Regions from separate parts of the Homo sapiens genome. Here region 2 is linked to region 1. The links come from fine-mapping of genetic effects on gene expression. A gene starts in region 1. The other region holds a variant in brackets. All regions are shown on one strand. Distances are between the middles of the regions.

What was found. PIP is the estimated chance that this variant, and not a neighbour inherited with it, causes the effect.
Region 2: its variant is fine-mapped to the expression of FHL1 in whole blood (TOPMed, PIP above 0.99).

The regions. Positions count from the first base shown.
Region 1 is chrX:136,194,891-136,199,291 of GRCh38, reverse strand. FHL1 (four and a half LIM domains 1) reads right to left here and starts at 2,245. Exons shown (of 6, transcript NM_001159699.2): 1 at 2,158-2,245. The coding sequence starts at 2,179.
Region 2 is chrX:136,054,428-136,058,828 of GRCh38, reverse strand. No RefSeq gene overlaps it. Among named protein-coding and RNA genes, the nearest start is that of SLC9A6, 71 kb to the right of the region's middle. The variant G/A (reference allele first, on the strand shown) is at 1,793.

The DNA.
Region 1 (4,401 bases):
TTATATCGGGTGTCAGGAGGGTTCGATATAGATTATTAAAAGAAAAATTATGTGCCACTGAACTTCCTGCAGTCCAGATTCAATTCTAGTACCATTTTGTCTGTATATGAAGATTTTTCATAATGTTGCACAGATTACGTGCAACACAGCCCCTCTTTCATATGGGAAAAAAAGCATTTCTGACCCGGCAGCAAAAGAGCATGTGTTTTTAGTTTCTCCAGCTGTGGTGAAGTAGTAGGTAGTCATTTGGTGGTCATCAAAAGCACAAAATGTTCAGTTTCACTCTCACTCAAATCTTCTGTATTTTAAGAAGCCAATCCAGTTGGATTACTTTCCTCTCATCCTACCCTCTCATTTTCCATCCCTGCCCTGAGAAAAGACTGGCGGGCTTGTGCGGCCCACTGAGCAGCAGCTGGTGAAGGGAATCGATGGCTGTGTAATATGGCAAGTGACCTGATCCCCCTCCACACCCCAAACCTGGTTTTCGACTTGAAAGGCCAAAGGCTAAAGAAATTGAATCTACATAATTTTGCAGACAGAAAGTCTTCAATGTCAAGAGTATACATTGTTTTTGTCCTTGAAATGTCCTCTCAGTATATGGATAGTCACTAAAAATGGATTTGGATCCAATTATCCTAGCTTCTATTTTGCCCATACTGAGCCCGTTTCAGGGCAACACTGATTTTCTATGAGGACTTCTCTGTCTCATGGACTGATTCTTCTCTGCTTTCATGAATCTATTAACCTAATGCAATACAAAATGCAATTTCCTGAATTCAAAAATCATCTAAAAGGTATAAATAATTGGTCCCATTTAGCCACAGTTATTAGAGCCTCCAGACTTACATACACAAGAACGACATAAGAATTTGGTGCAATTTAAAACCCAAGGTTGGGTATGCTATAAACTTTCTGTCACTATTTAAACTTTTAAACTTTCTGTCACTATTCTGTCACTTAATTAGTAAACAAAATGAGAGTTATTCTACCAGGTAACATGCATTTAAGGTTCATCAGGACAACTAGCACAGCTGACTAGTTTGCCTACACCCAGAGAATGTGTATCTTGGCTGATAACCACAATCTCAAGCATTTGGTACCATGTTTGTGAAACAGCTCCTGAGGGTTGGAAAAAAAAAAAAACCAGACAACTTTTGAACACTTGGGAACAGGGAAGACATTACATATTAATTCATTAAGGTAGGGCATTCCATTGCAGCATATTTAAAACCCCAAAAAGAGAAATTTCCTAAAGTATTTCCATTGTTTAAATATTGACAGGCAATGAGTTTTAAAAAATGATTTTTCAAAAAAAAAAAAAAACATAGATAATGACATCCCTTAATCTGAAAGCTGGGAGACAGGATGAAGTGCCTTCTTTATATCTAACCGTCTGACTTTACCAGCCCCAAGAAAGGGAACCGTTACTTAGGCAGAGGGCCACAGGGCCACAGCCACCCTCCTGGCTTCAAATAACTGGGCTTTTGGCCCCTCAGCCCCTAGTTCATAGATTTCTTGTCGATGGCCAAAGGGCTTCCTTAATTGTAAGGTTACAAAACCAGAAGAAAATGCTCATGTCCCAAGGAGTCCAAAATGTGCCCCTTTTTCTGCTAAAAACAATTAATAACATACTTAGCATATCAAAAGGAACATAGCTGTTACTTCGGGAAGATTTAAAACATTGTCAGCAAAAGGGAAGATGTGCTAGGTCATTATGGACTTTCTTAGTTACAAATGTTCCTCCTTTCAGCTCCACATTCGATTTACCTTCTCCAAACACCTTGGATGTAAAGCACTGTCAAGATGAAGAATTGTATCTTATAAAAAAGAAAGCCAAAAATTCCTAACCAGAAAAACCTTTCCTCCCACAATCTCTTATAGTTTCATGAGATGTCCTGAAAAAGGTAAAAATATAGTGGTAACATGTTTATATACTTCTTTTTAAAATAAATCACTCAAACTGTTCATTGTACTTGAACAATATTTTGTCTTTGAAATAGCATGAAAGGCAAAGGCAAAACAGAGACAAGCTATAATTTATTTACTATTCAGACAAGACTAAAATCATTTCATCAAAAACCATCTTTTAGCCCAATGACGGATTCACTGCCCTAACAAAACTGTGCTCAATATAAGATAAAGAGCATGAAGTTTTACCTGAGTGTCTATGGGAAGCCATGGCTCAGAGACCAAGTTCAGGAGCAGCACCTAGACCAGTCTTCCCTCAACCCCAGCTGATAAGGCTGTGGCTCATTTGTGAACATACATTTAAGGGGAAGCGGCTAACACAAAAATAACCGAGAGCAGATGTCCCACCCCTCCCCAGAGATCACAACCTTAATCCCACTAGAAAATTCTTAACCATTTTAGGTGATCCAAGGGAGAAGAATAGGACCCAGTAAAAATACCAAACGCTACATATAAATACCTGCGGGGCTACTCAGCATCCAAATTAGCTCCAGAGCCAGAGAGGCCACATAGAAAGTCATCCCTGTACCGGAATAAAATTTGGACTCGGCTCTGGCATAGCTTAACGCTGAGCCAACCTTATTAATCCACTTTATATGCCTCAAGAGCTTGCATTTGGCCCTGTAAATAATACATTTTTGTGCTGTTAATGATAAAAGTAACTCTAAGAGATAGACTTATGTTACCAGTGTAACTCAAGGAGATTAGACAGTATGAATATAGAGATTAAGGGGATTATAGATGTTGTCACTCTATGTCCTCCTTAGTATGTTCCAGAGATCAGCAGATTACTGTACAGGAAAGGAGAGTGATCGTAATCTCCCCACCTCCTTAACGGCAGACAGCACAGAACAAGATGGGGAGACTATGCCTATCCCCATCACACACACAATGAAGACATTTTGTCTCACAAACTCAACCTCTTGTTTTTCAGCATCAGGGACAATAAAAGGAAAAACATGAATGAAAATGAAGACATCAACCTAAAATGTTGTAATAGCTCAACAGGCCATCAGATGTCTGGGGGCTGGCTATTAGGAGCATGTTCTAGGAAAAGAAAGCCCCCAAGTCCCTCCAGGACCTTCTTCCACATTCCTTCTCTGGCCTTACCCTTAGCCCCCTTTCCCTCACTCCCACCTCACTGGCCTCCTCACTGTCCCCTGTGCCCAGAGTCATGGTTGTTCCTTTCCCTACTTCAAGTCTGCTGGTATTGCACTGATTTCTCTCCTTGCTGTCTGATCTCCTGCTTTGCTCCATGAAGGCAGGGATTTAGTACTGGAGCTCACTGCAGTGGCCCCAGAGCCTAGAACACTGCCCAGCTCCCAGGAGGCTCTCAATAACTATTCCTTGAAAGAATGAACTAAATAACTGAAAAATCCATCAAGCCTCCAAAACATAGTCCCACCTGCAATCCTGAAAGTGGTTTTGGCCACTCAACTTCAAGGAAGGCAGCTGACCTTCTCGCTGGTACAGACACCTTTATAGCCACTGTCTTGTTTAAGTGGTTTTGGCCCTATTCACACATCTCCCCTACCAGGTTGAGGGCCAGGGCAGTGCTTTGCTTGTCTTCATGTTCCTATAGCACACAGTAGGTGAGCAGTAAATGCTCCATGAATAAATGAATGAATGAGTTCCCCAATTCTTACGATCTTCAAATGTTTAAGGAAAAGTTATTCTAAAAGACAACTGACATCAGTAACTCCCAGTTAGCTAGAAAATGACACAATAAAAGCCAGGTTGTTACGAGTAAATTTATTACATGTTAGAGGAAAAAAATAAGCCTGGGAAAAGAAGAGAAGCTACACTGTGCTCTGGCTCCACGCCTTTCTAGTCTCTTTCTCATCCAGCCTGATTAAATTATGGTGCGGAGATTAGCCAGTTGTAACAACACCACACCCCTAAAATAAACTGAAACTTTTCACCTAGAGGAAATTCTCTTACTTTATTAGATGATTAACCTTAATGAACCCTGAATTTTTTATTTTAGCAAGTTATATTTTTAGGAAGAGCCCATGTATGTTGAAATGCCTCTCTTGCAGCGCTGTGAACAATAGGCTTGGTGTGCCAAATACTTTCCTTTAGGAAGTCAATTCCTGTTTCAAGCTATGCATCAGGAAGTGTCTTCTTTTAGGCAAGTATGGTAGTTCTTTAGGTTTCTGATCATTTTGAAAAGTGACAACAGAATATGGATAGACAGCTTTATGAAAGTATCAAAAAACAAATCTGTTTTGCCTAAAATACAAGAGAAAATTCAAAGACAAGAGAATCACTTTTTGACCACCATGAATTAGTCAACTATGACCAGCCAGGATGGACTGGGAGCTTGGGCCTGCAACAATAGCATTTATTCCAGTTACTTCCATTTGCATCAACCAGGTAACTGTGCCCTCCTAAAAACTTCATGAAGCATGACCACTACCTGCTCTGACATCT
Region 2 (4,401 bases), 140 kb after region 1:
AGTGCAATGTTGCAATCTCAGCTCACTTCAGCTCACTCCAGCCTCCGCCTCCTGGGTTCAAGCCATTCTCCTGCCTCAGCCTCCTGAATTGTTGGGATTACAGGCTCCTGCCACCACGCCAGGCTAATTTTTTGTATTTTTAGTAGAGACAGGATTTCACCATTTTGGCCAGGCTGGTCTCGAACTCCTGGCCTCAGGGGATCCACCCGCCTCGGCCTCCCAAAGTGCTGGGATTACAGGCGTGAGCCACCACACCCGGCCGTCTATGTTTTTCAAAGCTCACAGAGCTATATGCTAAAGGATAAATTTTATGGCATATAAATCATACTTCAATAAGCCAGAGGTTTTGTTTGTTTGTTTTGAGACAGAGTCTCACTCTGTCGCCCAGGCTGGAGTGTGGTGGTGTGATGTCAGCTCACTGCAACCTCCACCTCCCAGGTTCAAGCGATTCTCCTACCTCAGCCTCCCGAATAGCTGGGATTACAGGCATGCGCCACCAGGCCCGGCTAATTTTTGTATTTTTAGTAGAAACTGGGTCTCTCCATGTTTGCCAGGCTGGTTCCAAACTCCTGACATCAGGTGACCTGCCAGCCTTTGCCTCCCAAAGTACTGGGATTACAGATGTGAGCCACCGCGCTTGGCCAATGAGCCAGAGTTTTTCTAAAAAGTGAGTTTAGATTATTTTTCCACTTCCATCATTTCTGGAGAATCTGATGGACCCAGGAAGATAATGAAATGTTTGAAGTGTATGATCTTAAAAAGATTACAAAAACAGACAAAGGAAATTTTCTTATTCCTGTCAGTTCTCTTAAAGTTCAGCCTTAGATGGCTGGGGCTTGAGTTTTGTTTTTTTATTCTTTGCTCCTTTTTTTTAAAGTCACTCGAGGCCAGAATTTATGTGAAAGACATAGTTTTTCTTGGTATCTAATGAGGTGACTTTAGAATGATTTCAAGTATGATTTACAACTGGAGTGCTATCTTTATGAAACATTTATATCTGTGACAACACCTAATAAAACTTTTTATTGGAAACATTGTTTGTATGGTTAGAACAGACTGTCAAAATAATCCCCCTTGGACCAGATGCATCACAAACTGATCATTTACTCTGTTGTTCTTGCCGGTATCATATTTAAATTCAATCTGATGGGGACTAGAGAAAAGGGCAAGCCGATGACATCATTTTCTTTATAAAGATTGAAGTTTTCATTTACTACAAGGGACACGATATAAAGACTATCTTACAGTAAGAAACTACAATGCCCACAAGCTGGAAATTTCTGTCCTGAACTACCCAACTAGACACTGTTATTTGAATTCAGTCATGTCATTAAAATATTTAAGACCTGGTTTGTGCTTTATTTGATATAGAATTGGATCATTGTCTATAAGTACAGACTCTAGATGCTGTATAATTAGAGTGGTATCTGAAGCTATCTTTTTTTTTTTTTTTTTTTTGAGACAGAGTTTCGCTCTTGTTGCCCAGGCTGGAGTGCAATGGCACAATCTCGGCTCACTGCAACCAACCTCCACCTCCTAGGCTCAAGCGATTCTCCCCCCTCAGCCTCTGTAGTAAGCCTGGCTAATTTTTGTATTTTTAGTAGAGATGGGGTTTTGCCATGGTGGCCAGGCTGGTCTCGAACTCCTGACCTCAGGTGATCAACCTACCTCGGCCTCCCAAAGTGCTGGGATTACGGGCGTGAGCCACTGGCCTGAAGCTACCCTTTCGTTTCTTCCTTAGCCTAACAACAAGAAAAAGTTCTATAATATACCAGGGTTATGGAGAGGAAGT[G/A]GCAACTGGCTCAGCACAGATAGAAGCAGTGTGCCAGTTACTTTTGCTTTTAATTTACCTTGTAAGTTCTTCTGTTCATCCTTAGAAGTGACTCCAAATGCGTGGTACAGAAACTACATGCACAGATGCTGCTTGTTCACATAAAATCAGTGGAGAAATCAGAGAAATACCAAAAATATCTAATAATAAGCTATTGATCCTGCTAAAGGGCATAATGAAAAGATGGCATGAAGTTCTCTACAAGAAAAAAATGGCCATTTTGATCTATTACATTTACAAACTAGAAATGCTGAGCTCTAAAACCACATATCTAATAAATGCTGAGCTCTAAAACCATGTATCTAATGACAAGGCTATCTTCACCACTAGACTGTGAGCTCCTTGAGTGCAGGCAGCATGCCTGATGTACCTCTGACTTTCTAGATCAGACAGAAGGAATGAAGGAAGAATTTGTATAATCAAGTCATTGGTTTCCTATGAAACAGAGTTTGGAATCGCACTACTGACATCCCTACCAATGGGTCAGAAAGAACAGAGCTCAGTGTAATGAGAGCAGAGCTGTGGGCTCCATTGTTACATAGAATAGCCAGCTTTGTCCTGGACTGCCTTTGTAGGTAAAGGGGAGGTTCTGCGTTTAATGTATGTTTTTTAGGTCAGCACATCAGTCCTACAGTTTCTGGGTGAAGAAATAAATTCCTGCCGAGGAAGGAATGTAATTGGGGTTTAACACAAGCAATTTTAGGAAAGACCTCTACGTATCAGGACCAGCACTACATTTCTTAAAAAAAAAAAAAAAAAAGACATCTCTTTGTCCATCATCTTTCTCTCAAGTTAGTTCTGAAGTGACTTTTCCCAGCCACTCCGGAGGCAATGAGGACTTCATTTTGGAAACATTGGCTGAGTGTACTGGTGACTCACACCTCTGATGAATTAATAAAAGTTGAGAAAACAAAAACCAGATGTTTCCTTCATCTTAATATAGACCCCTAAGCTTTCTTTTTTCAGTTATACTGTCACTTGCTGATTTCCTTCTAGTGAGGCAAAGCCCAATATTTTGAAAGTTTGTATCCATGCCTATTGGATGACCTCCATCCCAACAGTTGCTATTTGGTTCAAATTTCCATAAAGACAGCAGGTCAGGCACGGACTGTTTCAGCAAGCTAGTGGCACACAGTGTTTGAGAACAGCATACCAGAGGGCTTGGACACTAGATTGGATTTGCTTGAGAACTCTTGCAACAGCTTCTGAGGAAAAGCAAAAAGCGAAGCCGTCTCTTAGCTTGCATGCAAACCCACACAGAACCAGAAAGAGACTGGCCAACTAGCCGTGGCTTCCTTTCCACATCCAGTATTCATTCCTTGGCCCTTGACCCTTCTGGAAAATGCTAAAAACTGTGTTTTAGAGAGCCCACAACATATATTTTCATTCTTCTGGCCAGACTGGAGGTGAATACACTGAAATCCAGAGTGACGTACATTTGAAAGTTTCCTAATAACACCACCCATCATTCCCTGAGAACTTCTGTAGCTTTCTGTTTTTCGTAAGGAGGGAAAATAATTTATTTTTTCCTCCATCCATTGTACTTTGGTTAAAGCAATTATTTTTCCCCAGACACCACCCATAGCAAAAAGCTCCAGATGTTTTTAGGTTATAATGAGAGAATGGATGGCAAACCCTGGTGTTTTTCAAACTCGTATCCTTTCCCAGCCTTTTTGTTTGGGGCCCTTAGCCCTCCTCTCCCTCCCCTCTTTTCTTAATTGGGCTCCACCTACCCTTACCTAAGTGATCCAGAAACAAATTTAGATTTGTGCTTTGACCGCTACATCTCTCAATCTCTTGGTCCTAATAGGTATCTTCTAAAATTGTGATTCCCACCACCCCATCCACTGATTTGCCCAATCCAGGTTGCTGGTAATCACTGTAACCTGTCCCCCTCACCCATTCACTACGGCTAGTCTCCAAATCAACACCAACCAGATGTCTCTTGCATCTGTCCCCTCCTTTCGACCCCTACTGTATTCCTGTGCTTAGGCCACCATTCTCTCTCACCTGACCAAGTCTTCTAACCATCATCTCTGTGTCCACTGTTACCCATCTCCAAATAATTCATCCTTTCCACCGTAGCTACAGTAAGTGATCTTTCTAAAACCCCTGTATGATCATGTCTTCCATACATTGCCACTCCTGGTAACATATTGAGCATGGTGGCCTGGGAAAAATTCTTACACCAGTGAGTAATGTGAAAGTGCTAGTTAAAGCTAGGTTAGGCTGGGTGCAGTGGCTCATGCTTATAATCCCAATCCTTGGGGAGGCTGAGGCAGGTGGATTGCTTGAGACCAGGAGTTTGAGGCCAGACTGGACAACATAGTGAGACCTTGTCTCTATAAAAAATAAAAAATAAAAATAGCCGGGCTTTGTGGCACGTGCCTGTAATAAACAGCTACTTGGGAGGCTGAGGTGGGAGGATCACTTGAGCACTGGAGGTTGAGGCTGCAGCGAGCCTTGATCATGGCACTGCACTCCAACCTGGGCTACAGAACAAGACCCTGTCTTATTTGTTTGTTTGTTTATTTATTTATTTATTTATTTTTGGAGATGGAGTCTCACTC